Regions from separate parts of the Homo sapiens genome. Here regions 2, 3, 4 and 5 are each reported to be linked to region 1. Evidence: microRNA targets listed by miRTarBase, many of them from high-throughput screens and not tested one by one. Region 1 holds a microRNA gene; each other region holds the end of a gene's coding sequence.

What was found. The annotated mature microRNA hsa-miR-4505 reads AGGCUGGGCUGGGACGGA and lies in region 1 at 2,592-2,609, opposite strand. An mRNA with a match to its seed (bases 2 to 7 or 8) in the 3' UTR can be bound and repressed. Matches are read on the target gene's strand: a 7mer-m8 pairs with bases 2 to 8, a 7mer-A1 pairs with bases 2 to 7 and ends in A, and an 8mer does both.
Region 2: the mRNA of PSMD3 is a reported target of hsa-miR-4505. Seed matches in the 3' UTR shown: 7mer-A1 at 1,252-1,258 and 7mer-m8 at 1,283-1,289.
Region 3: the mRNA of ZNF562 is a reported target of hsa-miR-4505. Seed matches in the 3' UTR shown: 7mer-m8 at 4,441-4,447 and 8mer at 484-491.
Region 4: the mRNA of RNF126 is a reported target of hsa-miR-4505. Seed matches in the 3' UTR shown: 7mer-m8 at 4,450-4,456 and 7mer-m8 at 4,219-4,225.
Region 5: miRTarBase lists KLHDC8A as a target of hsa-miR-4505. Seed matches in the 3' UTR shown: 7mer-m8 at 1,650-1,656.

Annotation. Positions count from the first base shown.
Region 1 is chr14:73,755,564-73,761,357 of GRCh38, reverse strand. It overlaps MIR4505 (microRNA 4505), which reads right to left and starts at 2,611; the gene lies at 2,539-2,611. It overlaps MIDEAS (mitotic deacetylase associated SANT domain protein), which reads left to right and starts at 1,055. Exons shown (of 13, transcript NM_001367710.1): 1 at 1,055-1,595. RefSeq lists enhancers at 648-977, 3,038-3,087, 4,779-4,858 and silencers at 1,398-1,637, 1,768-1,917, 2,278-2,387, 4,698-4,992.
Region 2 is chr17:39,996,469-40,002,262 of GRCh38, forward strand. PSMD3 (proteasome 26S subunit, non-ATPase 3) reads left to right here. Exons shown (of 12, transcript NM_002809.4): 11 at 862-912; 12 at 1,036-1,491. The coding sequence ends at 1,113. Among named protein-coding and RNA genes, the nearest start is that of PSMD3-AS1, 15 kb to the right of the region's middle.
Region 3 is chr19:9,648,024-9,653,817 of GRCh38, forward strand. It overlaps ZNF562 (zinc finger protein 562), which reads right to left. Exons shown (of 6, transcript NM_001130031.2): 6 at 1-5,794. The coding sequence ends at 4,926. Among named protein-coding and RNA genes, the nearest start is that of ZNF562, 24 kb to the right of the region's middle.
Region 4 is chr19:643,464-649,257 of GRCh38, forward strand. It overlaps RNF126 (ring finger protein 126), which reads right to left. Exons shown (of 9, transcript NM_194460.3): 7 at 5,419-5,512; 8 at 4,909-5,024; 9 at 4,063-4,814. The coding sequence ends at 4,665. FGF22 (fibroblast growth factor 22) reads left to right here. Exons shown (of 3, transcript NM_020637.2): 3 at 1-910. The coding sequence ends at 141. Among named protein-coding and RNA genes, the nearest start is that of FGF22, 6.5 kb to the left of the region's middle. RefSeq lists an enhancer at 682-1,622.
Region 5 is chr1:205,332,591-205,338,384 of GRCh38, reverse strand. KLHDC8A (kelch domain containing 8A) reads left to right here. Exons shown (of 6, transcript NM_018203.3): 6 at 793-2,324. The coding sequence ends at 986. Among named protein-coding and RNA genes, the nearest start is that of NUAK2, 14 kb to the right of the region's middle.

The DNA.
Region 1 (5,794 bases):
GAAGATCCAAGTTTTGCCTGTGTCCTCCACACCCCACCCTGGCCCTGTAGGCCCAGTGAGTGTGTGAGAATCATATTCTGCTGCCCCTCCCTCCTCTTCTCCCTGAGAAAGTGAGGGATGCACCTGGTTCTCAGGTCTGGCCACAGTGTTTTGAAAAGTGGCTGCCAGGACACATGGTATTCTTCGGTGGTTTTTCTTTCAAAGGAAAATCTCCTTGTGACCCATCTCCTTGAAAAACAGCCACCGCCACCACCGCCGCCGCCACCACCACCACTGCACCACCACCAAAAAACTTGGAAGGAAGAATAGGACACACTCCCCTGAACTTTCCCCTGGCCCTAGAGCCCCATTGAATGTGGGGGCCAGAACCAACCTCTTGAGCTGCAAAAATGTTTTCCATCTTCCCACCAGTCAGGCAAGGAGGCATCAAGGCCTGGACCTGAGAATTGATCAGGGGGATATTTAGGGAAGACAGGGGAAAATGTGAGTATGGAGTGAAAAGCCGCTCAACTCTGGCCTGAGTTGCTAGATTTAAATCCAGGAGATTTTCCTCACCTAAGCGATGGAGATGGTGGGTCCTTTCTAGGGACTGAGGCCAGTTTCTCAATAACCTTTACACGCACCAGGACGCTTTTGAGCCAGAAAGTGAAACTCGGAGAGTCTGTTAATAAAATGCCATGGAGAGGATTGTGCATGATTTACCGTATCCAAAACCAGAGAGAGTTTCTTTGTGGAAGAAAGCGACTTGTGCCTTCCCCAGCATCACACACACACTTTCCTGGCAGGCTCAATGGGTTTCCAAACATTTCGTCACCGTCTCCTCCTGACCTTGGTGTGAAAGGAACTAGCAGCGTGGCCCGCCAGCAAAGCCATCGGGGGCGCCAGCCTGGGCGGGGGATGGGGACGGCGACCGACTCGTGAGTGGAGGTGAGGTCTGCTGGAAATCCCCAGCCCCGGCCGCCGCCTGAGGTTTAAGGACGCCTTCCCCGGCCTTATTTGGTCGCAGGAAGTGGGCGGCGCCGGGCCTGCTGGCTGAGGCCGCCCCGAGACAGTTGTGCTGATGAAGTGGTAGAGCTGGTTCCTGCTCGCCGCGGTGCCGCGCGCGCCGGCCGGCCGCTGGGCGCTCCGCGCTCCCAGCCTCGAGTTGTGCAATCCTTTGTAGCACGCCAGAGTCCTCCTCCTCCGCTGTTGCCTCTCGCCCTCTCTCTTTTTTTTTTTTTCAAGCTGTGAGCTCAACCGATGAGTCAGAGCCGTGCAATCCTGACACTGCATCGCAGGACTGGGGGTGACACGGAGGGAGGCAGAGCGCTCGCGAGGCGGACGGCACGGGTGCGGGGCGCGCCGAGGCTCCTGCATCGCAAGCGGGGGGTGACAGCCCGCGCGTCCCGCCCGGGCCCTGCCAGCAAACTTCTCAGCCTCGGGAGGCGCGGGCTGGCGGAAGCCCCGCGAGCGCCGCGGGGAGGCGACGGCGCCTGTTTGTTTTTAAAATCGGGAGTGCGTGCAGGCGGCTGGAGTCCCGGAGGCGACCGAAGGCGGCGACCCGCGGCGGAAGGGGGACAGCCGAGCCCGGAGCCCGGAGCCCGGGCAAGAGCTGGGTAAGTGGGGCTGCCTGGCCGGCGGCCGAGGCCTGCACGCGGCGGGGCCGGCGAGGGGACCCCAGGCGGCGCGCGAGCTGTGGCTGCTCGCACGGCGGGTTGCAGCTCTGCAGGCGCGGCCCGGAGAGGGGGCCGCGGGGGCCGCTGCGCTCGAACTTCTGCGGCCTGGGCGGCGGTGGAGCGGGCGCGTGTGGCCGTGCGGGGGCCGCCTGCAGCCCGCCGCCCCCTCCCCCGCGGTCCGCGCCCTCGGCCCGCAGCTGCGTGTGCAGCGCAGCCCCGCGGTGTTTGTGCAGCTACGCAGCTTGCGCGCGGCCCCCGCCCACCCGGGCGCGGCCCCGCCAGGAAAGCCCTCCCCACCCGGCGGCCCGCGGCGGCTCGGGAATCCGGCTGCTCCTCCTCCGCTGGAGAGAAACGTGGTGTCCGTGGGGACCGGCTGACGTGACGGAGCCCAGGCCCGGAAGGCGCGGCGAGGGGCTAGCCAGCTGAGGGAACTTGGCGCGGGAGCCCCTTCCCCTGCCAGCGTGCACGGGAAAGTGGGCCTGGACGCGGCGTCCACGCCAGGAGTTTGGGGGACAGAGGTGCAGGGGCGTTGGGGAACTGGGGCAAATGCAGTCAGCAGAGGCCTAGGCTGGAGCGCTTCGCGCGGGCGGGCGCACCTCAGACCTGTCATCCTCCCGCGCGCCCCCGCACGCCCGCGCCGCCGCAGCCCTCCCAGCCCGCGCGGTGCCTCGCGGGGAGCTGTGTTCCCTGGTGCCTGGCGGCAGCGCCGAAACCCGGGATTCGGCCGGGCCCTGCATATGGCCGGCTTGGTGGAGCTGGTCACGTCGCCTCCCAAGTCGCACATGCAGGACCATGTGTGTCAGGTTGCCCCCAAGGCCTCTGGGTAAAGGTCTAGGGGAGGAAGGGGAACTTCGTGTGCCCTGGGGCCTTCAGGCTTCAGCCCCAAGGCGGGCCGACATGGAGGAGGTACCTGCCACAGAAAGTGGAGGCCGGGTGTCCGTCCCAGCCCAGCCTCCAGCGAGAGCTGGTGAGAAGATGAAAGGGGAAGTTATATGCCCCATTTAAAACTTTGTTGGTCACAACTACGGTGGCTGCTTCCTGTTTCCACCATCCCACGTGGGACCTGTGTGCCAGCCTGTGGAGCCTCGCGCGGGGGGCGGTGGGATGGGGGAAGAGAGGCTGGCCACGGAGGCCCCGGTGGCCCGCGTATGCAGGGGATCCCTGTTGGCAGCTGCGGCTGGGGGAGGGAGGGGATGTCTGGCTTGCTCCAGCAGGGGGAGCCTGGCCAGGTGATCTGGGATCTTCTTGTTCCTGTAGCTTCAGGGTTGAGACTGAAGGCCTAGTGAAGGTGGACCGAGAAGCCAGTCCTCCCTAGGGGGCCTCAGCTGAGGGGAGAAACCACCTGTCTTGCTCTAGAGCCTCCCACCAAAGGTGTGGCACACGCCCCTTTTGGATCAGAGAAATGCACCCTTTCCTTGGGTGTTAAGTGGCTTCAGAACCCAGGGAAAAGGAGAAGCCTTCCCGGGTTGAGAATTCGTAGGTCTTCCTTTTCCAACTGCTCTGGACAGTGAATAATAGGAGCGTAAACATTCAATTACTGTGATAAACCATCTCGTTGCATGGCCCTGGTCCAGTCTCCACTCTAATTGGATTGGCCTCTGGCTGGTTACTCTGGTCCGTGTAGCTCCCGGGGGGACAAGGGGGTGAAGAACCTGGAGGATGCCCCCAGGTCATACAGCTTGCCAGCTTGCTCTGGAACAGCCTAGCCACTGCCAGTGTGGCCTCTCCAAGTGCCAGCAGAACCCCCACTCCCGTGACTCTGTCAGCTCCTCACCCCGCCCCAGGAAAGAGCGCCCTGGAGTGCCCATGGGGATGAGAATTTAATTTTTACATGTGGGATTTTAAAATAGCCCCAGTGTTTGACCCTGTGTGCTGCTGCTTTCAATAAGTGGAACACAAGAAAAGACAACATGCAGTTGTGGATTCAGCTGAGGGCCTCCTGTGTCTAGAGTCCCCAGAGAAAGGCTGCCCAGGGGTGCCAAGACCTCTGACAGAAGAGGGGAAGGGGAATGGGCCCAGTCCAGGAATCTTCAGGTTGAGAGCCCCTCTCTTGCATTTGGGTCTCCCAGAAGAAAACTTTGCTCATGCTGGGGTGGGGACAGCCACAAAGTGGCTGGGGGTTTCCAGCTTATCCTTCTAATCCTGTTTCAAATGCCACTTCTGAAGGCTGTAGCCATCTTCTGAACACTCATTTCCACCTTATGTAGTTATTTGTGTACATACTGCAGTGTGGTGGTCAAAAACAAAGACTCTGAGTTAGAGTTCCTATACAGTATCTCCTTCATAGAGTTGCTGTGAGGATTCTGTGAGTTAGTATACGTAAAATGCTTAAAGCACATTTCAGTATTTGGTAGCCTCTGCTTGAATGGGTCCCACAATGCTGCTTGGCATCTAGTAAGTGTTTAGTGTTTTTTTTTTTTTTTGGTTGTTAGAGATAGGGTCTTTCTCTGTCGCCCAGGCTGGAGTGCAGTAGTGCGATCTCAGGTCGCTGCAATCTCAGCCTCCTGGGCTCAAGCAATCTTCCCACCTCAGCCTCCCAAGTAGCTGGGACTACGGGTACACATCACCACACCTGGCTAATTTTTCTATTTTTGTAGATATGGGGTTTTGCCATGTTGCCCAGGCTGGTCTTGAACTCTTGGGCTCAAGAAATCCACCCACTTTGGCCTCCCAAAGTGCTGGGATTACAGTCTTGAACTACCTCACCTGGTCTTAGTGCATGTTAGTTGAACAAATTAGTGAAAGATCTCCATCAAAAAAAATGTGTACTTGTCATGTGTTGGGCCCAGTGAGTCCCTGCTCCTGGAACCTCCTCAGATTGCATCACTGGTTTCAAAAATGTCAGTCCACCGTGGGTGATTCTGGGGCTGGTGAACCCAGTTTCCTGGCACTGCCCTGTAGCTGGCCTTGTGGAGTGCATGTGTCGGTCATCCTGACCCTAAGGGGACCTCAGGGTGAAAGAGTTGTGGAGCCATCTCCCTAGGGATCTGCTAGCCTGGGCACTTCCTTTGGTCAGCCCAGATTGGCACCCTTCCTGTGTGTGTGCAGGCGTGCATGCATCAGTACAGAAGCAGCCTGGGGCTCCATTCTTCCCTGACTCACTGCAGGTGGCAGGAAGCAGAGCCAGTGGCCGCATTCTGTTGGAGGAATTGCTTCTTTCTGCACATGAGAACTCTTGACTCTGGGACTGAAAAATTGCATGCTGGGCCGGGGCTAGGGTGGAGTAGGCTGAAATCCCCAATTCTTACTAAGGGACCTGCATTTGCATTCGAAGCAACATTCAGGATACTGTGAGACTATGAGCTCATTTTATGAATCAGAAGCATTACAGCATAACTTTAATGTTGGAAACTGCAATTTGGAATCCAGATCACCCTCCCTCCACCTCAGCGCGCACGCGCGCGCGCACACACACACACACACACACACACACACTGACATGGGCTCTCGCAGTCACACACTTGGGAGCAATAATAGTTGGAGCATCAGTTCAGATTCTGGAGGCCTCCAGCAAAATTCATCCACACCGACTTCTGCTTCCACACTCAGAACGCCGTTCCTGGATGGTGTGTGGACAGTCACTTGGGCAGTGACTGAAGGAAGTCTGATGGGTGCGTGGGAATGAGGCCTGGGCAGACCTGAGTTCATACCCCAGCATCTCCTCTTGCTGTGTGGCTTTGGGCATTGCTTAACTTCTTGGGCCTCAGTTGCCTCACCTGTAAAATGTGGATGATACTAGTACTTCATAGGCTGTGAAGATTAGACAGGATTATGCATGCAGAGTGAATGACACATACTAGGTATTCAACAGATGGCAACTCTCATTTCACCAGTTCCCACTGGATCCAGTGTGTTTGCCTTTGACTCCTATCAAGGAAGAGAAAATGAAGGGTGTCCTGTTTATAGTAGGAAAGCAATCTACCAGGCCACTGAAGCTTGTATAAATGAAGTTTATTGTGCCCTGGGAACAACAGCTTGATCCACTCCACCCTAGACATGTGGCCCAGACCCAGTGTCTGTGTGCCTTTGAGAGGGACTGTGGCCCTGCAGCCGAGGGTTGAGGGCCCAGCTTCCCAGAGATCAGATTGTGCTCTCAGGAACCTACCCGCCCAGGCCCCAGGCTGAGCTGCTCACGTGGG
Region 2 (5,794 bases), not on the chromosome of region 1:
CTGCAGCACAGGGGGCCCAGAATGGGGAGGGGACTTGGCCATAGTTCCATAGCCAGTTGCCCTCTCCTATTGCGTTTAAGGGATGATGTGGTCACCAGGGAGGACCAGGCAGGGATTCAGAGGGCGGGGTTCTACATTTGGTTCCAAATTTGAGGCATTTAACTTCTCAAAGCTCTGTTTCTCCATCTCTGAAGCTGATAGGGAGGTGTTACCTGTCTTGCTTGCTTCACAGGGTTGGTAAGATTAAAAGAAGTCCCTGTATTGAGGCACTTAGCGAAGTCTAAATTGTAAAAAAGATGGCGCTGGTATCTAGCTCCACAAAAGGGTGAGCCCTTATCCTCAGTTAAGCACTGAGTTTGGCGCTGTTACTATTTGCTTGCCATGTTTTTTTCTGGTCTCCTCCGAGGAAACTAGGATATTGCTGCCTTGCTTAAAATCTGGCTAAGCCCTACTCCACGTGACATGCAAGGCCCTTTGTGACCTGGTCCCTTAGGTCAAGCCTCCCCTCCCACTCCTGCCCCACCACCCAGCAGCCAGCCCACTGGGTGCAGGCCAGGCCCCTCCCACATGGAATCCTCCACCGGGAAGGCCTCTCCCCGTTGCCACATCCACTGTGTTCCTCCTTTTCCTCCTCCCTGCCCAGTCAAGAGAGTTGGTCGTTTATTCCTCTTTTTTCAGCATTTCCCACAGGGCACTGTAATAATTCCTTTGATGCCTAGCCCCCCACTAGACTAACTGGAGAGGGGCCCGCCGCTTCCTGCCTGGTGTCTAGCTCACAGAGGGGACGCAGGGAGTGCAGGTTGCGTGAGTGCCTCACCTGCTTCCTTCCCTCGCTCATCTCCTCTCTTTGCTGTGCCCCAGGCCATGAGGTTTCCTCCCAAATCGTACAACAAGGACTTGGAGTCTGCAGAGGTAAGCTCTCTGCTTTCTGGGTGAGACCGAAAGGTCAAACTTCCACACAGAAGGGGAGTCGGGCGAGTGTCTGGAAGGGCTGAGCTGCTCTGAAGCTTTGGCCTCACTTGCCTCTCTCCCCAGGAACGGCGTGAGCGAGAACAGCAGGACTTGGAGTTTGCCAAGGAGATGGCAGAAGATGATGATGACAGCTTCCCTTGAGCTGGGGGGCTGGGGAGGGGTAGGGGGAATGGGGACAGGCTCTTTCCCCCTTGGGGGTCCCCTGCCCAGGGCACTGTCCCCATTTTCCCACACACAGCTCATATGCTGCATTCGTGCAGGGGGTGGGGGTGCTGGGAGCCAGCCACCCTGACCTCCCCCAGGGCTCCTCCCCAGCCGGTGACTTACTGTACAGCAGGCAGGAGGGTGGGCAGGCAACCTCCCCGGGCAGGGTCCTGGCCAGCAGTGTGGGAGCAGGAGGGGAAGGATAGTTCTGTGTACTCCTTTAGGGAGTGGGGGACTAGAACTGGGATGTCTTGGCTTGTATGTTTTTTGAAGCTTCGATTATGATTTTTAAACAATAAAAAGTTCTCCACAGTGCTTTGTGCATCAGTTACTATACTTCACTGCAGTATTGGCAGGCTCAGATTTTGGGTTTTTTGGCCTTAGAGTACTAGCCCCAGGTGTGTAATCTGAGGGCGATGGGTCTGCAGATGGGGAGGTGCCCAGGGGAGGATGAAGGGACCCTGACCTGGGGTCGGGGGCCTAGGTTTACTCTCTTTTCGTACTTGTGTGGCTTTGGTAAGGTCTTGTTAGGAAAGGTGTACCATGTGTCCATCACCAGCTGCAGACCTTCATCTCCCAATACACCTCATGGTGCTTCACGGTTATTGCAGTTTTTACAAATTGAAGGTTTGGCCAGGCATGGTGGCTCATGCCTGTAATCCCAACACTTTGGGAGGCTAAGGTGGGCGGATCACTAAAGGTCAGGAGTTTGAGACCAGCCTGGCCAACATGGCAAAACCCCGTCTCTACTAAAAATAAAAAAATCAGCTGGGCATGGAGGCAGGCGCCTGTAATCCCAGCTACTTGGGAGGCTGAAGCAGGAGAATTGCTTGAACCCGGGAGGTGGAGCATGCAGTGAGCCAAGATCTCGCCACTGCACTCCAGCCTGGGCAACAGAGTGAGACTGTGTCTCAAAAGAAAAAGAAAAGGACAAATTGAAGGTTTCTGGCAACACTGCATCAAGCAAATCTGTCGGTGCCATTTTCCCAACAGCATGTGCTCACTTAGCGTCTCTGGGTCACATTTTGGTAAATCCTCTCGATATCTCAAACTTTTTCATTATATCTGTTATGGTGATGTGTGATCGGTGATCTTTGATGTTACTATTGTCATTGTTGGGGCACCACAAATTGCACCCATATAGGATGGTGAACTTAGCCGGGCACGGTGGCTCGCGCTTGTAATCCCAGCACTTTGGCAGGCCGAGGCAGGTGGATCACCTGAGGTCAGGAGTTCAGGACCAGCTTGGACAACATGGGGAAACCCCGTCTCTACTAAAAATACAAAAAACAGCCGGGTGTGGTGGCAGGCGCCTGTAATCCCAGCTACTTGGGAGACTGAGGCAGGAGAATTGCTTGAACCCAGGAGGCGGAGGTTCCAGTGAGCCAAGATCGTGCCATTGCACTCCAGCCTGGGTGACACAGTGAGACATTGTCAAAAAAAAAAAAAAGATGGTGAACTTAATAAATGTCGAGTGTGTTCTCACTGCTCACACTGCTCACTCCATTCCCTGTCTCTCTCCCTCTTCTTGAGTCTCTCCATGCCCTGAGACACAAAATAATATTGAAATTAGGCCTGTTAGTAACCCTACAATGGCCTCTTAAGTGTTCCAGTGAGAGAAAGAGTCATTGGCCAGGCCTGGTGACTCACGCCTGTTATCCCAGCACTTTGGGAGGCCAAGGCTGGTGGACCCCTTGAGCTCAGGAGTTGGAGATCAGCCTGGGCAACACAATGAAACCTTATCGCTACAAAAAATATAAAAATTAGCTGGGCATGTGGCACGCACCTGTAGTCCCAGCTACTAGGAAGCCTGAGGTGGAAGGAGCCCTTGAGCCTGGGAGGTGAAGGCAGAGGCTGCAGTGACCTGAGATCCTGCCACTGCACTCCCACCTGGGCGACAGTGAGACCCTGTCTCAAAACAAGAAAACAGAAAAAGGGAGAAAGAATCACACATCTCTCACTTTCAATCAAAAGGTCAAAATGATTATGCTTAGTGAGGAAGGCATGTTGAAAGCTGAGAGAGGCCAAAAGTCAGGTCTCCTGCACCAAACAGGTAGCCAAGTTGTGAAGGGGGAGTTCTTTAAGGAAATTAAAAGTGCTGCTCCAGGTTGGGCACGGTGGCTCACAACTGTAATCCCAGCACTTTGGGAGGCTGAGGCGGGCAGATCACAAGGTCAGGAGTTCGAGACCAGCCTGGCCAGCATGGTGAAACCCCGTCTCTACTACAAATACAAAAACTAGCCAGGCATGGCAGTGGGCGCCTGTAATCCCAGCTACTCGGGAGGCTGAGATAGGAGAATCCTTGAAACCGGAAGGCAGAGGTTGCAGTGAGCCGAGATCACACCACTGCACTTCAGCCTGGGTAACAAAAGCGAAACTCTGTCTCAAAAAAAATGTTTTAAAAAGAGTTCGAGACCAGCCTGGCCAACATGGCAAGACCCCATCTCTACTAAAAATACAAAAAATTAGCTGGGCGTGGTGGTGCATGCCTGTACTCCGAACTACTTAGGACGCTGAGGCAGGAGAATCGCTTGAAGTGGGGAGGCGGAGGTTACCATGAGTCAAGATCGCACCACTGCACTCCAACCTGGGTGACAGAGCGAAATTCTGTCTCAAAACAATAAAAAATAAAAATGATAAATTAAATTAAAAGTGCTGCTCTAGTGGACACACAAATGATATGAAAGCAGAATAGCATTATTGCTGATACGGAGAAAGTTTGAGTCTGGAAAGAAGATCAAATCAGCCACAACATTCCTTTAAGCCAAAGCCTAGTCCGGAGAAAGGCCCTCACTCTCTTCAATCCTTTGAAGGCAGAGAGAGGTGAGAAAGTTGCAGAAGAAAAGTCAGAAGCTAACAGAGGTTGTTTTGTGAGGTTGAAAGAAAGAAGCCGTCTCTGTAACATAAAAGTGCAAAGTGAAGCAGCAAGTGCTGATGGAGAAGCTGCAGTAAGTTATCCATCAGATCTAGCTGATCTCACTGACGAAGGTGGCTACACTCAAAAACAGACTTTCAATGTAGACAAACAGCCTTCTATTGGAAGAAGATGCCACCTGGGACTTTCATAGCTACAGAAGAGAAGTCAATCCCTGGCTTCAAAGCTTCGAAGGACAGGCTGACTCTCGTTAGGGCTAATGCAGCTGGCGACTTTAAGTTGAAGCCAATGCTCATTTACCATTCCGAAAATCCCAGGGCTCTTAAGAATGATGCTAAATCTATTCTGCCTGTGCTCTGTGGATGGAACAACAAAGCCTGGATGACAGCCCATCTGTTCCCAGCATGGTTTACCGAACATTTTAAGCCACTGTTGAGACCAACTCCTTCGTCGGCTCTGTCGGCCAGGCTGGAGTGCCGTGGCATGATCTCAGCTCACTGCAACCTCTGCTTCTAGGTTCAAGCGATTCTCCTGCCTCAGCCTCCTGAGTAGCTGGGATTACAGGCATGAGCCACCGCACTCAGCCAAAAAAAATATTTTTTAAAGTTATTACTGCTGATTGACGATGCACCTGATTACCCAAGGGCTCTGATGGAGGGATACCAGGGAAATAATATTGTTTTCATTCCTGCTAACACATCCATTCTGCAGCCCATGGATGAAGAAGTAATTTCAACTTTCAAGTCTTTTTTAAGAAATACATTTTGTAAGGCTAGAGCTGCCATAGTGATTCCGCTGATGGATCTGGGTAAACTGAAAACTTAGAAAGCATTCATCATTCTAGATGCCATTAAGAATATTCATGATTAGGGCCGGACGTGGTGGCTCATGCCTATAATCCCAGCACTTTGGGAGGCTGAGGCAGGTGGATAAACTGAGGTCAGGAGTTTGAGACCAAGCTGGCCAACATGGTGAAACTCCATCTCCACTAAAAATAAATAAATAAATAAATAAATAAATAAATAAATAAATAAATACAAAACTTAGTCAGGTATGGTGGCACGCACCTGTAGTCCCAGCTACTCGGGAGGCTGAGACATGAGAATCGCTTGAATCCGGGAGGCAGAGGTTGCAGTGAGCCGAGATCGTGCCAATGCACTTCAGCCTGGGTGACAGAGTGAGACTCTCTCAAAAAACAAAAAAAGAATATTCATGATTAGGCCGGGAGTGGTGGCTGACACCTATAATTCCAGCACTTTGGGAGGCTGAGGCAAGAAGATCGCTTGAGCCCAGGAGGCCAAGAGCAGCCTGAATAACAAAGTGAGAACCCATCTGTATTAAAAAAATTTAAAAATTAGGCCGAGTGCAGCGGCTCACACCTGTAACTCCAGCACTTTGGGAGGATGAAGCGGGTGGATCACTTGAGGACAGGAGTTCGAGACCAGCCTGACCAACATGGTGAAACCACATCTCTACTAAAAATACAAAATTAGCCGGGCATGGTGGCGCTTTCCTGTAACCCCAGCTATTTGGGAGGCTGAGGCAGGAGAATCGCTTGAACCCGGGAGGCGGAGGTTGCAGTGAGCCGAGATCATGCCATTGCACTCCAGCCTGGGTGACAAAAGCAAGGCTCCATCTCAAAAAATTAACATTAGCAGGAGTTTGAAAGAAGTTGATTACAACCTTCATGGGTGACTTTGAGGGGCTGAAGACACACTTCAGTGGAGGAAAAAACTGCAGATG
Region 3 (5,794 bases), not on the chromosome of region 1:
CCTGAGCCACTATTCCCAACCTAGATGACTCTTATAGATTAAGAATTTAGAAATAGTAGGAACATGCCCCACTACAGTATATGACAGTCATTATATACAAATATCATTAAGGGACAATTTTTTAAAAATCACAATGTTATTCAAACATAGCTCCATAACATATTAGTAAAGGTCATGAAGTATTTTTAAGTGATCCATTATGTCACAGTCGAGCTTATCCAGGAATACAAGGTTGATGTAACATTGGAAAAGCAATAAATACAAATACCACATTTATTTAATTTAATTTATTTATTTTTGACAGAGTCGCACCCTGTCACCCAGCATGGAGTGCAGTGGTGCAATCTTGGCTCAATGCAACCTCCACCTCCCAGGTTCAAGTGATTCTCCTGCTTCAGCCTCCCAAGTAGCTGGGATTACAGGTGCACATCACCACACCCAGCTAATTTTTGTATTGTTAGTAGAGATGGGGTTTCACCATGTTGGCTGGGCTGGTCTCGAACTCTTGACCTCAAATGATCTGCCCACCCCCACCTCCCAAATTGCTGGGATTACAGGCATAAGCCCCCACACCCAGCCTGACCACATTTGTTTTAGAAAAGCGCCTTTCCATGCATTCACTTCTTCAAGTTTTTTTTTTGTTTTGTTTTTGTTTTTTTTTTTGAGATGGGGTCTTGCTATGTTGCCTAAGCTGGTCTAGAACCCCTGGGCTCAGGCCACCCTCCCAAGTAGCTAAAACTATAGGCATGCATCACCACATCATTTCATTGAAGTATTTATTAGGTACCATCATGAGCTAGGTGCAGTTCTAGGTATTGAGTTTTATCAGTAAATAAACATGATCATCACAGAGGATGTGAAGGAAGCATTTAATAAATTCAAGAGGAATTCAGCCTCATAAACTATGAAATATTGGGAAATAATTCATCATGTAAAAACTGGATATAAAGAAAAAACTTTTCCTGCAGGACATTGTTGCAGGAAGTCAGGGACCCCAAACGGGGGGACTGGCTGAAGCCATGGCAGAAAAACATGGATTGTGAAGGTTTCATGGACATTTATTAGTTCCCCAAATTAATACTTTTATAATTTCTTATGCCTGTCTTTACTGCAATCTCTAAACATAAATTGTAAAGATTTCATGGACACTTATCACTTCCCCAGTCAATACCCTTGTGATTTCCTATGCCTGTCTTTACTTTAATCTCTCAATCCTGTCAGCTGAGGAGGATGTATATTACCTCAGGACCCTGTAATAATTGCATTAACTGCACAAATTATACAGCATGTGTGTTTGAGCAATATGAAATCTGGGCACCTTGAAAAAAGAACAGGATAACAGCAATGTTTAGGAAACAAGAGAGATAACCTTAAATTCTGACCGCCGGTGAGCCAGGTGGAACAAAGCCACATTTCTCTTCTTTCACAAGCAAATGGGAGAAATATCACTGAATTCTTTTTCTCAGCAAGGAACATCCTTGAGAAAGAGAATGCACACCTGGGAGTGGGTCTCTGAACTGGCCCCCCTGGGTGTAGCCATCTCTTATGGTCGAGACTGCAGGGGTGAAATAGACCCCAGTCTCCCATAGCACTCCCAGGCTTATTAGGAAGAGGAAATTCCCACCTAATAAATTTTAGTCAGACCAGTTGATCTCAAAACCGTCTCCTGATAAGATGTTATCAATGACAATGGTGCCCAAAACTTCATTAGCAATTTTAATTTCACCTTGGTCCTGTGATCTCGCCCTGCCTCCACTTGCCTTGTGATATTCTATTACCTTGTAAAGTACTTGATGTCTGTGACCCACACCTATTTGCACACTCCCTCCCCTTTTGAAAATCCCTAATAAAAACTTGCTGGTTTTTGCGGCTTGTGGGGCATCACGGAACCTACCGACATGTGATGTCTGCCCCGGACACCCAGCTTTAAAATTTCTCTCTTTTGTACTCTGTCCCTTTATTTCTCAAGTTGGCTGACACTTAGGGAAAATAGAAAAGAACCTATGTGAATATCGGGGCTGGTTCCCTGACAGGACATAACCTCTTCAAAAAATAAAAAAGAAATAAAAGCCTACAGCCAAACCAACAAAATAGAGTGCATATCTCACCAGAACTGCAAAGACAAGTATGCTGGTATTACTACTTTTAGTTGGTGTTGTGCAGCGGGTTAAAATCAGTCCAGTAAAGCAAGAAAATATTTAGAGAGAGCTTCATCATCATACGAATTTTGGGGGTCATTGTTCAGTCCAAAGTACTTAATATGATTCTTTTCTCTTTCCACATAGAGAATCAGATAATCTATAAATAATGACTCTTACTGTTCCACTTTAGGAGTTAGGTATACATACATATGTGTATATATATGTATATATATATACACATACACACACACACACACACACACACAGTGACCCCCCAAATTTCATATGAAGTTCCAAACCTCAATGTGACTGTATGTGAAAAGAGAAGGGGGCGGGGAGGGGGGAGACCGACCGACCTATTTGTTGGTCTCCATCGTGTGAAAACATGAGGAAGTGGGCACTTACATGCCAGGAAGAGAGCTCTCACTAGAGGTTGACCATGCTGGCACTCTGATCTCAGACTTCCAGCCTCCAGATATGTGAGAATATAAATTTGTGTTTTGGGCCAGATACGGTGGCTCAGGCCTGTAATCCCAGCACTTTGGGAGGCCAAGGCAGGTGGATCACCAAAGGTCAGATCTGACCAACATGGAGATCAGCCTAACCAACATGGAGAAACCCTGTCTCTACTAAAAATACAAACTTAGCTAAGGTTTGTGGTGCATGCCAATAATCCCAGCTACTGAGGGTGAGGCAGGAGAATCACTGGAACTCAGGAGGTGGAGGTTGCGGTGAGCCAAGATCATACCATTGCACTCCAGCCTGGGCAACAAGAGCAAAACTCCATCTCAAAAAAAAAAAAAAAAAAAAAAAAAAAATCCTGTGTTTTTAACCTCATTGATTTAAAATTAAATTAATTTCTAAGCCATTTGGTCTGCGGTATTCTCTTATGGTTGTCTGAGCTGACTAAGGCAGATATTGGTACTGAGAAGTGAGGTACTGCAATTAAAAACAAACAAAAAAACTAAAAATGTGAAGCAGCTTTGAAACTGACAAATGAGTAGAGGCTGGAAAAATTCTGATGTGCAAGCTGGAAATAAGGTTGGTAAGGGTTATTCTGGTGAGGTGTCATTGGGGAATGAGGAACATGCTATTGGGAAATGAAGAAAAGACAACCCTTGATATAAAGTGGTGAAGAACTTGGCAGAACTGTATTCTAGCATTTTACGGAAGGTAGAGCTTGAGACAGATAAAATGGTATGTATCACTAAGATCTGTAATTAAAGTGTTAAAGGACACAGGAAGCTTCATTATTCCTGAGTGCTTACAGGAAAATGTGCTGGGAACAGGCCCCCCAAATCTGGCCATAAACAGGCAATGAGAAACTGGCCATAAACAAAATCTCTGCAGCACTGTGACATGCTCGTGATGGCTATGACGCCCATGCTGGAGGCTGCTGGTTTACCAGAATGAGGGCAAGCAACACCTGGCCCACCCAGGGCAGAAAACTGGAAAACTGCTCAAGGCATTCCTAAACCACAAACAATAGCATGAGTGATTTGTGCCTTAAGGACATATTCCTGTTGCAGATAACAAGCCAGAGCCTGTCCCTTTCTTTCTCATAAGGAATACTTATAGCTGATCTACAATCTATAGGAATAATGTTTATCACAGGCTTACTGTCAATAAATATGTGGGTCAAACTCTGTTCAAGCTCAGCTCTGAAGGCTGTGAGCCCCGATTCCCACTCTGCACTATATTTCTGTGTCTTTGTCTTAATTCCTCTAGAGCCACTGGGTTAGGGTCTCCACGACCCAGCTGGTCTCGGCAAAAATGCAAAAGGAGACCTGAATTGCAGAAGAAATTGTTAAGGAAAAAGGAACCAGAACTTGGAGATTTGGAAAATTCTCAGCCTATCCATACTGCAAAAATTAGAAAACTTGTACTGAAGAGAATCCTCAAAGTGTGGCTGAACAATCATTTGATAAAGAGATCATGAGTGGGATTCATGGACTATATCAGCCATCTTAACAGAAGTGAGAAGAGAGACTGGATTATACTATAAGAGACACTGCCACTTACATTGTGCCACCTAAAATGGACAGAGAAGACAGAACAGAACAGTCAAGGTTGTCACACTTCTTATTTTACAAGAAGGGGACATAGAAATAATCAGCTGTGAAAGGGCACTGGCAGTTATGGATGGTTTCACTCCTGACATGCTCTGCAGGATCCATGGGAACAGAAGAGAACCTTGGAGGAGCATCTTTTTAACAATCCACCTCTGGGGCCTACATCATCTTGGCTTCTGGTAAATTTTGACATGAATGTGCCACACTGGCAGCCACTAACCAACAGGGGCTGGGATCAATCTGCATGATTTATCTCGTACAGAACTTGTTAATGCTATGATCTTAGGAATCTAATCACCAAGGTGAGGCAGCCTGCAGTACTGACCTCACCATCCATGACCCTTCTTCACAGATGCCCAGACTCAGGTAACCATGATGTTGTATTCAGAACCTGTAGGTTTAATTTCAGACCCTCGGGATGCATCTAAGGCCAATCTGTGAGCCATTACAACCTCCAAAAGGCATTTAGGACTAATCTGATGATCTTTGCACTGCCAATAATTAAAGATGGCAACCAATGGGCTAAATGGTAACAACACTCATATCCTTACATTCATAGTATTTCTCCCCAGTGTGAATTCTTTCATGCATACTTAGGCATGAGGAAAGAGCAAATGCTTTCCCAAATTCTTTACATACAAAAGGTTTCTCTCTGGTAGGAGTTCACAGGTGGGGTGAGGAATACAGAAATTCTTTCCCACATATCTTGCATTTACCTTTCTCCACTGTGAGTTTTCAAATGTTTACTACGATGGGAAGAAGTAATGAAGGTCTTCCCACATTCAACACATTCATAAGGCTTCTCTCCTGTGTGAATTCTTCTATGTTGAGTAAGCGTTGAAGATCTATTGAAGGCTTTCCCACATTCCTTACACTGATAGGGTTTCTCTCCAGTGTGATTTCGTATGTGTATAGCAAGGCCCGTGTACTGAGTGAAGGCTTGGCCACATTCCTTACATTCATAGGGTTTTATTCCAGTGTGAGTTCTTACATGTTGAGTAAGGTGAGTTGATCTAGTGAAGGCTTTCCCACATTCCGTACATTTGTGTGGTTTTATTCCAGTGTGAATTTGAATGTGAACATTAAAGGATGAGGAATTTCTAAAGGATCTTCCACATTCTTTACATTCAAAGGACTTCTCTCCTTTATGAGTTTTTGCATGTGCAGAAAGTTGAGAAAAATTAGTGAAGGATTTCCCACAGTTCTTAGTCTTTTCGGATTTCTTTCCAGTATGAACTGCTACACACTGCTTTAAGTGTGAGGAAGTTGTGATGGCTCTCTCACATTCCTGAAATTCACAGAGTTTCTCTCCAATGTGGATTCCCATGTGATTATCAAGGCTTGCAAAATACTTAAAGCCTTTTCCACATTCCTTACATTTGTAGGGTTGTCTTCCATTGAGAATTTCAAGATGCACAGCAAGGCCTGGAGTTAAGGTGAAGACTTTTCCACATGGATTAAATTTGGAAAGTTCTTGTCCAATAGAGGCTTCCTTGTGCACACTGATGCTGTCTTTTCCATAACAATTACCCTCAAAAGTGTTCCCTCCATTCTGAGCTCTCATGTGTGTCTTAAGGCAAA
Region 4 (5,794 bases), not on the chromosome of region 1:
AACACCTACGCCTCACAGCGCTGGCGCCGCCGCGGCCAGCCCATGTTCCTGGCGCTGGACAGGAGGGGGGGGCCCCGGCCAGGCGGCCGGACGCGGCGGTACCACCTGTCCGCCCACTTCCTGCCCGTCCTGGTCTCCTGAGGCCCTGAGAGGCCGGCGGCTCCCCAAGGTGCCTGGGCTGGTGGCGAGGGGCCCGGCCACGCTTGTTCTTCCCCCTGCGGGCTCTGTAAGCGCTGAGTGCCCACCGTGTGCGGGCGCTGTGGACACAGCCCAGGAGCCCTCCAGGGGGGTCCCAGCCTGAGGGGGTGGTGGCCACCAAGCAGGTTCAATCCTGAGTTGGGGACCTCGAGGACCCAACAGGGCGCCTCTCGGGCTGAAGGACGCAGACGTCGAAAGGTCGAGGGGGACGTCCCAGGCAGGGCCCGGCAGAGGCAGGGGCTCGGGGTGGGGAGCACGTTGGGAGTGGGGGCAGGAGCGGAGGGGAGGGGAGGGGGCCGGGGAGACGGTGACAGACGCCGCAGAACACCAGCCTCGAAGCCGGTCCCGTCCCGGGAATCTGCAAATACAACGCCTTGCGAGGACAAAGGCACCTGCAGGTGGGACGGAGATGGAGGAGCATCCAGGGTGGGGGGTCCAGGGCCCCAGTGTCCTCACAGGGTCCTCACGACAGGAGGCGGGACAGTGAGAGCCAGAGAGAGATGGGGATGGGCCGCGCTGTGGCCGTGAAGGGGAGGAAGGGCCCTAAGCTGAGGGACGTGGGTGCCTCCAGATGCTGGGGAAGGCGGGAACGGTTCCGCACTGGAGCCCCCGGGAGGGACCGGCCTGCTCCTGCCTTGATATGAGCCCAGTGGGACCCAGTTTGGACTCTGGCCTCCAGAACCGCCAGAAAATAAACGTAGTAAGCCATCAACTTTGTGGTCTTTTGTTACAGCAGACGTCGGAAATATGCACACGGTGTCTGAAACTGTTCTCATGACAAAATAAGCCTCAGATCCCCCGGGGAAGGGCGGAGGCCAACGCCTCGGTGTTCCTCCGATCCCCCGGGAAGGGCGGAGGCCGACGCCTCGGTGTTCCTCGGATCCCCCGGGAAGGGCAGAGGCCGACGCCTCGGTGCTCCTCAGATCCCCCGGGAAGGGCAGAGGCTGAGGGCAGGAGCCGTGCTGGGTGCAGGGCAGGCCTGGGGGCTTCATGCCGCTGTCCTGCGGGACGCAGAGAGGGCTGGCCGTCGGTGTGGGGGCGCCCCCACCTGTGCCCAGCGCCCTCCTGACATCCTGACTCCGCTGGGACTTCTGCCTACAGCCCTGGGAGTCAAACTCCAGCCTCTCAGAGAAAAGGTCAGAGCCAAGAGCCCCACAGCCTGGAGCCAGGCAGTGACACCCTGGGCCTGTCTCCCCTTCTGTGTGTGGGGCGACAGCAGCATCGCCCTGGTGAAGTCCCCGGGGACGGCCAGGGCTCCATCCCCAGCCGCCGCCTTCCACATAAATACAGGAAGACTGGGCCGAGGCACTTGCTGGGAGGTGCTGAGCAGCCTGACACGGAAAACCCTTCTGGGAAGGGAGGGTCGTGCCCGGCCCGAGAGCTTCTGCTCACCCTGCAGACAGAAGCGAGCCCCACCCCAGGGGACACCAGGCGGCCTCTGGGGACATCTTTGGCTGGCATGGAGTGGGTGGAGGACAGGGCTGCACCCAGGATGTCCCCAGGTTGGCAGTGTGAGGGGAGATCGGCCCACGTTGGCCAGTCGGAGGGCGTCGCCACTTGAGTTGTCACTGGGAGCTGCACAGGTCACCACAGCTGAAATAAAACTTGCTGGCACCCCACGCAGGAACGTAACATGTGCCTCGAAGAAACGGGTCAGCAGGCCGGGCGCGGGGGCTCACGCCTGTCATCCCAGCACTTTGGGAGGCCGAGGCGGGTGGATCACGAGGTCAGGAGATCAAGGCCATCTTGGTCAACATGGTGAAACCCCGTGTCTACTAAAAATACAAAAAATTAGCCGGGCGTGGTGGCGGGCGCCTGTAATTCCAGCTACTTGAGAGGCTGAGGCGGGGAATCGCTTGAATCCGGGAGGCGGAGGTTGCAGTGAGCTGAGATCGCGCCACTGCACTCCAGCCTGGGCGACAGAGCGAGACTCCGTCTCAAAAAAAAAAAAAAAAAAGAAACAGGTCAGCAGTTGTTTCTTTGTTTCTAAAACAGAGCGTGGAATGGGCGTACAGCTCCGCACATCCCAGGGCAGTGAAATCCCGGTTCACACAGAGCCCTCAGCAGCTTATTCGCAAGCCCAAACCTGGGGACCCCCGTTGTCCTCAGGCAGTGAGGTGGGGGCCCCCCAACAGAGAGGAGCGGCCTGGGGGCACAGAACCAGCGGCTCCCCAGGAAATCGCCAGCAGTGAAAATAAGACAACCCCAAACTGTTGCAAACTGTGCTTCCGCTTACGAAGCACTCCTGAGCGGCAGGGCGGATGGGGAGAGGGCGGCTGCAGGCGCGAGGGGCCCGGGGACGCAGGGGTGCGGGCCTTACCAGGGCCCTGTCCTGTCGTGCAGCAGGCTCCTGGGGCAGGGAAGACACCAGGGGCGGCCACTTCTTACTGCTGTCTGACCTCGAGCAATGCGGCCTCACAGCCCCCACCAGGGTGCCGGTGTCCTCTGGGCCCAGCGCCCCCGAGGCTCATGCCTGGGTGGGGCGAACCAATCGGTCCTGCTCCTCTGGCCACTCCACGCGAGGGAAGTCCCAGCCTCACAGGCAGGCGCACACCCCGGCAGCATCTCTGACAAAGGCCCTCCAGTTCCGAGTCTCCAGGTCCCGCCGCTGCAAGCCTCACCTGCCCAGCCCTCCTCTCCAGCTCCAACTCCAACTCCCAAGAACCACCACGGACACACAGAACCCGAGCCTTGTCTCCCTCAACGCCTCCTGACTCAAAACTCCATCTTCCAACAGGAAAACGGCTCGGCCGGGGGACTGTGACCCGGAGCAGGCGGCCCAGCCTGTCGCGCAGACTCGGGGCCTAAAACACTTGTTCTCTCAGTCCGGAGATCAAGGACGATCCGAGGTAACCTCCCTACCTCGGTGTCCTCCATGCAACCTCGTCTTAGGGCACCGGGTACGTTACCTCGTGAGGAGCCGAGTCCGCGGGTCCTGGGGTTGAGATGTGGACGCCCTCAGGGCTGGCACTCTGCCCTGGCGGCCACAGTCATGGAAGTCCCAACGCTTCTCTCGGCTCCGCAACCCCAGAGGGCGGCCACGAGGAGGGCCCGCCACGCACGACCCCAGAGGGCGGCCACCAGGAGGGCCCGCCACGCGCGACCCCAGAGGGCGGCCACCAGGAGGGCCCGCCACGGCGTTGCGGCAGCAGCCCAGAAGGTGCCCTGCGCACGGTCCGGACAGGTGGGATCCGAGTTACCTGGCCAAGGGGGCTGACGCAGACACGTCGCGGGACACAGTGAAGAGTGTGGTGCAGAGCGGAGGGCGGGAGTCTTTGGAGAACAGGTAGGGGCGTGGGGCACGCGCCTCCCACGCGCAGGAGCCGTCTACCGTGGAGGGACACGGGTGGTCCTGCTGGAGGCTCCTCTCCGTTAGCTGTCTCCATCGTCTGATTCTTGGATCCCAGGATGGTGGGATCATCAGCAACTGAGATGAACCCACTGCCCCGGCCCCCTGAGCCCGCAGGTCCCCACGCCTTGCCAGCTGTGCCCGAGCTGGCTGCACCCCGGGCCAGGCATCCAGCAACCTTGAGCAGTGGGGTCCGGCTTTTCAGAAGGGGCCAGGAACCCGCGTGGCTGAGGTGTGACCGAAGCGTGGGGCAGAGGCGCTGGGCCCTGGCGCTTTAACGCTGGTGTTTCTGGTTTTAAATTTCACGACCCAGTGACACTGCCACCCTGCTACCTCGCCAGCAGCCCTCCTGGGCTTAACTTCGGGAGAGCAGTTTTGCTAGCCGGCCCTGGGTGCCAAGCCCTGCAGGAGGCGCAGACCCCTGGAGACAGGACCGGACTCTGCAGAGCCCGACCAGCCTCCCAGCTTGGCCTTTTCCTGACGCACGGGCGCAGAAGGAAAGCCACAGCACCGGCTTCTCTTTGTAAGTAGTGTATTTTAAATAGCTTTCAAGATACACATATTTTTTCCTTTAAAAAAGTCTGTTGGAGCAGTTTTGTTCTTGAATTTTGCTGGTCATCCTCATGGTCCCGAGCCCCCCTACTCCGGGTCGTGGAGGCGGCCGAGGGGGAGGCTGGGGGCCCACGTGGCCCGTCCTGGCGGCACCTGCAGCACTGGGGGAGCCGCTGAACCCCGTGCTTCAGCGCTGGGGGAGCCGCTGGGCCCCGTCTTCCGCCACAAACCATGCATGGCCGCCACGTGAGCTCAAACGTCCGTTTATTTCAAAGCAGTAATAATTTAAAATTATAAAAATCTTTCCACCGCTGAACGTTTAGAGGGTGAGGTTAGACAGAGGACGGGGAGGCTGGGGACGCCCCAGAGGGGACCATGTGGCCCACGCCTTCCCAAGCCAGGGGGCCGGTGGGCCGGGCCCGGGTCCTGCCCTGGAACAGGCGGGACCTGCAGCGCTGACCAGCCAAGCGTGGCGCCGCCGGGGCACCCAGTCTGTGGGTGCCGTGTGGCGCTGGCTGAGGGTGGGTGGGAAAGGCCCCGTGCTTTCCCGACGGCCGACGTGGGCTCACGAGTTGCTTGTGGCGTTCTCGTTGCTGGGCGAGCTGGAGGAGGACGATGACGACGAGGAGGAGAAGCTCACCCCAGTGAGGCCAGGGGGGTTCGTGGCCGTGTTCTGTCCCGTGAGGCTTTTTCGGCAGACGGGGCAGCTGTCGTGCTTTGTGGGGACAGAGGCAGGGACGGGAGAAGGGGCAGGTTAGAGGCGGGAGGGCCGCGGTCGGGGTGGGGGGGCGGGTGGGCGGGGCACTCACCTGCTCCAGCCAGGGCACGATGCAGCCGTCGTGGAACAGGTGGTTGCAGGGCAGCTGCCGCACACGCTCACCCAGCGCGTAGTCGTCCTTGCACACAGGGCACTCGAGCCCGGAGCCTGCGGGAGTGTGCAGCTGCGGTCACAGCGGGCGTGGGGGGCCTGCCGAGCCTTCAAGGGCAGGCTACTCCACAGCCTCAGCCGGAGGCCGCCCCTGAGCCCAGCGAGGGGAGAAAAGCCGTGTGTGTGTCCCCCGGGCTGCCAGAGGGGACCTGGACAGAACCCTCTCCTCCCAGCCCACCTTCAGGGAAATGCTCGAGGCCGGGTGCGGTGGCTCACGCCTGTCATCCCAGCACTTTGGGAGGCCGAGGCAGGAGGATCACCTGAGGTCAGGAGTTCGAGACCTGCCTGACCAACATGGTGAAACCCTGTCTCTACTGAAAATACAAGTATGAGCCAGGCGTGGCGGCGGGTGCCTGTAATTCCCACTACTCGGGAGGCTGAGCTCTCATACCTACGTGCTCCTCAGTGACGGGGACGGTGGGGAGGGCCTGGATTTTCTCTTTATCTGCCGGTGGGGGGCCTGTGTTTTCAAACTGATTGAGGAGCTGAAAGACAAGAGGCGAGAGTGCCGGGAGCTCCTCGGGGGCCCGGCCCGGGGCTCTGAAACGCGAGGCTGCAGGACCTGCAAAAGCACCGAGGCCGCGTTTGTCCTGGGCCCTGGGCCCCTTGGAGCCCGCCCGGGGTCGGAGATCACTGTGGAGCCCACGCGGCCCCCCCGCTCCTGGGTCCCCTGACGGTGGAATGGGGGAATGGGCGGAGGCCCGCGCTCCTGGGTCCCTGACAGCGGAATGGGGGGGGGGGCCGCGCTCCTGAGTGCCCTGACGGCG
Region 5 (5,794 bases), not on the chromosome of region 1:
ACCACTATACTCCAAAAAATTCGAAGCACTCCCTTTCTTCCAGCCTAGATATTACCTATCCACTGTGGGCCCCAGGTGTGGCCTTTCTGTCCTCCTACACAGGGAAACTGTGACGCAGAGAGAATAAGGGACACCCGTAGCCGTGCAGCACAGGCTTACTGAGCACAGATCCCTAAACGGGAATGACTGGAGACAAACTGTGGAGGGGATTAGCCTTGGTCCTCCTCTGACCAGTCTCTTATCCTGTTCCAGCCCAATCGTGGAACAGGAAAGCAATCTGATTAAATAAGTTCAACAGATGAATCTTGGGTTTGATGTATTAACTCTGCCAGAGATTACTAGTATTTTGAAGGAGGGACTCTAAAGCGAGAAGTTCCCCATCATCAAGGAAGAGAGATCCAGGCAGCAGGGCTTCCAGGTACCCCAAGTCTACTTAGTGTGGACAAACTCCCACTTTACTCAGGCATGAAGGAACCGTGTCAACTAGACCATGTCAGTAGCTTTTTTAGGAAAGGGCAGCAGTGAGGCAGTAGTGTGCTAGAAAGCTCTGGTAAAAAGCAATGGGTAGGGAAAGAAAGCTTACTCTTAAAGAGACAGGAAGACGGTAGGAGGGACAAAGTGGCTGCTTGACAAAAGCCACTGGCTTAGTAAAGGGAGTAATCCTGTAGCCAAGGAAGTTGACCTTGCTTGGCTTCTGCTTGTGGGTGCCGAAGGGAGGGAGGTGGGGTGACCGTGGGGCATGGATTGGTGGTTGGACTCCTTTGTAAGGTCTGATTCCCTTGACACTTTCAGGGAATCAACCCACTGTCCTGGAGACGGCGGAAGCATTCCACCCAGGGAAGAACAAATGGGAGATCCTCCCTGCCATGCCCACACCCCGCTGTGCCTGCTCCAGCATAGTCGTCAAGAACTGCCTCCTCGCCGTGGGAGGTGTCAACCAGGGTCTGAGTGACGCAGTGGAGGCCCTGTGTGTCTCTGACTCCTAGCTGTCTCTGGGCTCAGTACCTTTGCCCTGGACCATATCACTTCACTCTTAACATGAGGAATGATCTTGTCCAAGCAGTCGGGGCTACTTCCAAGAATGTCAGCTCCTGTTAGCAACCAGTGGAGTCTGGCCTTGGGGCTCTAAGTTGACCTCTCTATAGCTCCAAATCCTACCAATCTCAGAAAACTGTAAGAGGCACAGATGACTCCACCAGCTGCAGAGCTGACTCTGAAGAGAGTCTTCACTTACTGCACAGGCAAAGAAAGGCACAGGAATATTTCCTACCTCTCCCTCCTGTGAGTCCCACCTCCCCCCACCCCCATCTCCAGGAGGCAGGTAGAGCAGTTCTGACCGAGAGGATAGACTGCTGTTGCTGTCTTTCCCCAGCTCTGAACTAGTTTTAAGGTAGCTTAGGATGAAAAATGGAGAATGATTGGGGGTTCCAAACCACTTTCTTCTCCCTTGGCTTATATCTCTTCACCATTTGGTGGTCAACTGTGGGCCTACCCTGGACCTCATCTACTCAGCGAGAATTGGACATGAAGCTAGAGGCAGCTGCCTTGGAAGGGAAGTCAGGCTCACTTGGACAGCCCAGGCCATGGCAGGAAGAATCCCTTCCTCTTGGGGTCCTTGATGGGCATGTGTGATGGGGAAGGAGCAGTCTCCCAGCCCTGGGTCTGCTCCCCACATCTCTCCTAATTCCACTTCACCTTTTGCCACCCCCTCCCCACCAGAGGCCTAGCCCTTTTGTCACCGAAGGCCCCCAGAGTGTTTCTGTGTGAAACCCTCTCATTTACACTGTGGCATCAAAATCCACAAAAGATGGATTAATTGCACTCTGGTTAATAGCAGCAGCACAATGATTAAAATCTATATTCCTATCTTCTCTAGCACCCTGGTGTGGGGATGGGGCGGAAGGGTGTCTTGAGGGGCAGGGAGGACCCCATAAAACAATCCCTCCTGCATTCTCAGGCTAAATAGGGCCCCCAGTGACTACCTGTTCTTGGCTGTCCCCTCTGAAGAGCTCTGCCTTCTCACAGCCACCACCAGTTGCCCCACTCCCAGGAAAACAGCACATGTTCTTCTTCTCCTGCCTTGAGACTGCGTGTTAGTCTTCCATTCATAACTCATCAGCAGCTCAGTCCTTCTTATGTCTAGTCTCAGTTCATTCAGCCAAAGCTCATTTTTGTCCTATCCAAAGTAGAAAGGGTTCTTTTAGAAAACTTGAAGAATGTGCCTCCTCTTAGCATCTGTTTCTGACTCCCAGTTATTTTTAAAATAAATGATGAATAAAATGCCTGCCCTGAAGGGTTCTGGAGGAGTCAGGTATCACTCATCAGGTGATAGTGTAATTCTTTCTCCAGGAGGCAGGAATGGAGGAGGATCACCTATCTGGATCTGAGGGGTCCAGGGAGCCTCCTGGAGGGAGGGAGTGTGACACCTTCAGCGGGATCTTCAAGGACAAGTGGAACCTGGGTCTTTACAGGATACGGATTTTTTTCCCCTCCCTTTCTCTGGGTACTTGGACTTTTTCCTTACTTGGGTCCAAGAAGGGCACTGCCACCTGCTGGCCCAGCATTTCCCTTCCCCCTCCCAGGGCTGGGAGGCCTCCCGTAGCCGCTGCTGCCCCCTAGTGAGGAGACTGCAGAGAGGCCTCCCCTGCTGCTTCTGGATCCCTATATTTGAGTTCAGCCCCTGAAGTAACAGATAGAAACAGGAGCTGGAGGAGCTGCAGATACTATAAGGGATGATGGAACTGTGCATTAGGGGATGCTCTTCCAAAGGCATCCTGTCTCCTCAATCCCCTACCCAAGAAAGGTGTTTAGCAACTGGAGTGCCTCCACCCCTTGCAAGAGAAACCCAAGCCTTATGGGAGGGGGCATTTCCAAGCACACAAAGTGGTCCCATATGCATGGATAGGGCTGAGCTTTTTTTTTTTTGAGACAGGGTCTTGCTCTGTTGCCCAGGCTGGAGTGCAGTGGTGCGATCAGGGTTCACTGCACTCTCCGCCTGGGCTCAAGCAATCCTCCCACCCCAGCCTCCCAAGTAACTGGCCCTAGACTCAAGCAATCCTCCTGCCTCGGACTCCCAAAGTGCTAGATTACAAGCCTCAGCCACCATTCCCAGACAATGAGCCATTTTTGAATGGTCAGACGGAACCTTGGGAGTACAGAGAGCTCTAAAAGGTTGAATTAGCTGCTGGACCCTGTGAGGGCAACTCCGGGCTGGAGCTGGTATCTGCTGAGAACTCACCCCTTGGAAGTCCATTCTGGAAAGACTTTAGGGGTGCCTCACTGAGGAATGAGGGAAATACTGAATGTCTGTTAAGCCATGTGGTCCTGTACCTCATGGTGCTGCAGAGGCAGCACAGGATCTGGGATAAGATGGCCTGGCCCAGGTCTCGCTCCCCAACCCCCATAGGCTTTCCCGTCCCCTTTCCACTGTGGGAAGGCTCCTCACCTTTCCTGTCTTCATTTCCCAACCTACACAACAGCAATCATAATGCTGTCTCACAGGTGGTAAGGTACTTCTTTCAACCCTCAGATCAACTCCATGAGGTAGGTAGTATCCTCCCATCTTGCAGATGAGAAAACTGGGGCTCCAGGGTCACAAACTCGTAAGTGACTGAACCAGGTCTGATCCCAAAACTTGTGACCACAGCACTGCATTGCCTCACGTGAAATAGCACCAGGAAAGGAAAGAAAATCAACTGCGCTATACTATGTAGGAAGTTCAAAATGTCTCAAAATCTAGAAGGATTGAGATTGTTTCCTAAGGAATGAGTGTGAGTATTCGCAAGGAATGGGTGAGAAGGGTTTCCTCATGTGAAATGGGCATAGATTATTCCTAAATGTATACTCCCCCGAAAATTCCCTTCTAACTTTTTCATTCCATTATTTAACATTTAACACCTATTCTGTGCCTGGCATGGTGCTAGATTCCTGCCCTATAGCAGTTACATCTTGGGAGGAAGACAGGGGACCATGGCTGCCGTTACTGTTTGATCAGTGTCAGCCTTTGCTAGTGCAACTCACAGGCACCCCACTCAGGGTGGTTGCAGAGAGCTGAGATGAAGAGTTCAGTGCAGGTTTCCAGGAAATAAATCTCAAACTGCACTTTGAAAGAAGAGGGAAGCCAGGTGCGGGGGCTCATGCCTGTAATCCCAGCACTTTGGGAGGCCGAGGCGGGCGGATCACCTGAGGTCGGGAGTTCGAGACCAGCCTGACCAACATGGAGAAATCCTGTCTCTACTAAAAATGCAAAATTAGCCAGGCATGGTGGTGCATGCCTGTAATCTCAGCTACTCGGGAGGCTGAGGCAGGAGAATCACTTAAACCCGGGAGGTGGAGATTGCAGTGAGCTGAGATTGTGCCATTGCACTCCAGCCTGGGCAACAAGAGAGAAACTCTGTCTCAAAAAAAAAAAAAAAAGAAGAAGAAAGAAAGAGAAAAAAGAAAGAAGAGGGAGACCAGCCCGGCAGAGGAGGATGATCACAGGCTTTGCAGCAAGAAAGATGGGTTCAAATCACGATTGTCATGTACTAATTGATCTTGGGTACATTACTTAACCTCTCTGAGTCCCAGTTTTCTTATTTGTAAAATGTGCAAAATAAGGCCTCACTTATGAGGCTAAGAGCTACCTGCTATATGTAAAGTGATGTATGTGTGTTCAGTGAGTAGCTGCATTATTATTTCATTGTTGTTGAAGGAGAGGTAGAGGTGTTCTCAAGCCCACTGAGGGAAAGGGTTTGGCTTATTTGGGGGAAAACATGTAGTGGAGAATGTAGGGGGAGGATGTGGGAAGATGGGCCTCGAAATGCAGGCAGGCAGACCAAGAAAGGCCTTACTATATGTCTTGTTGAGTCTGGAGTTTATGCATGTGGGAAGTTAGGATAAATTAAGGGTTTTAAGGGTAAGAGCAGTGTGACCAGAATTGTACCTCTGTAGGGATGTAGACATGTACATCCCTAGCATGGGATATTCTGAGTTCTTTTTCTAAGGAATAGAAAGTAAGTGAAATCACTAAGACATCATCTAAGATCAGAAGGAACAGCCGAGCATGGTGGCTCATGCCTGTAATCCCAGCACTTTGGGAGGCTGAGGCAGGTGGATCACCTGAGGTCAGGAGTTCGAGACCAGCCTGGCCAACCTCGTCTGGTGAAACCTTGTCTCTAATAAAAATACAAAAAAAAATTAGCCGGGCATGGTAGCAGGCACCTGTAGTCCCAGCTACTCGGGAGGCTGAGGCAGGAGAATTGCTTGAACCTGGGAAGCAGAGGTTGCAGTGAGCTGAGATTGTGCCCCTGCACTCCAGCCTGGGTGACAAGAGTGAAACTCCATCTCAAAAAAAAAAAAAAATCAGAAGGAACCCCAGCTGGGGTTGGAATCCTGGGACAATGTGCAGACCAAGCTTTTTAGGCCTTCTCTTGCGGAAGGCTGGCCCATCTACTGGGCAATCAGAGAGGGCCAGGAGACCCCAGAACTGCAGGAGAGTGGACCAGTCCATGCCCTCCATCACTTCTCTTTCCCCAGGATTGTTTTCTACTAATCTCTTGCATTTGCACTGGACTTTATGAGCTGCAAAGCTCCTGCATGGGAGGTAGGGTACAGTTAGCCTTTTCCAATCCCCATTTTACAGAAGAAGAAACTGAGAACTGGGAATCCTGTGACTAACCTAGGTGGCACAGCTAATAAGTGATAGGAATGAAAATCTAACCCAGCTCAGTGTACAGCGTCCCTCCCCCGTCACCTGCTGCTGTCTCTAAGCTCTACGGTAAGGGCAATAGCAAGGGAGGTCAGTGTATCCATC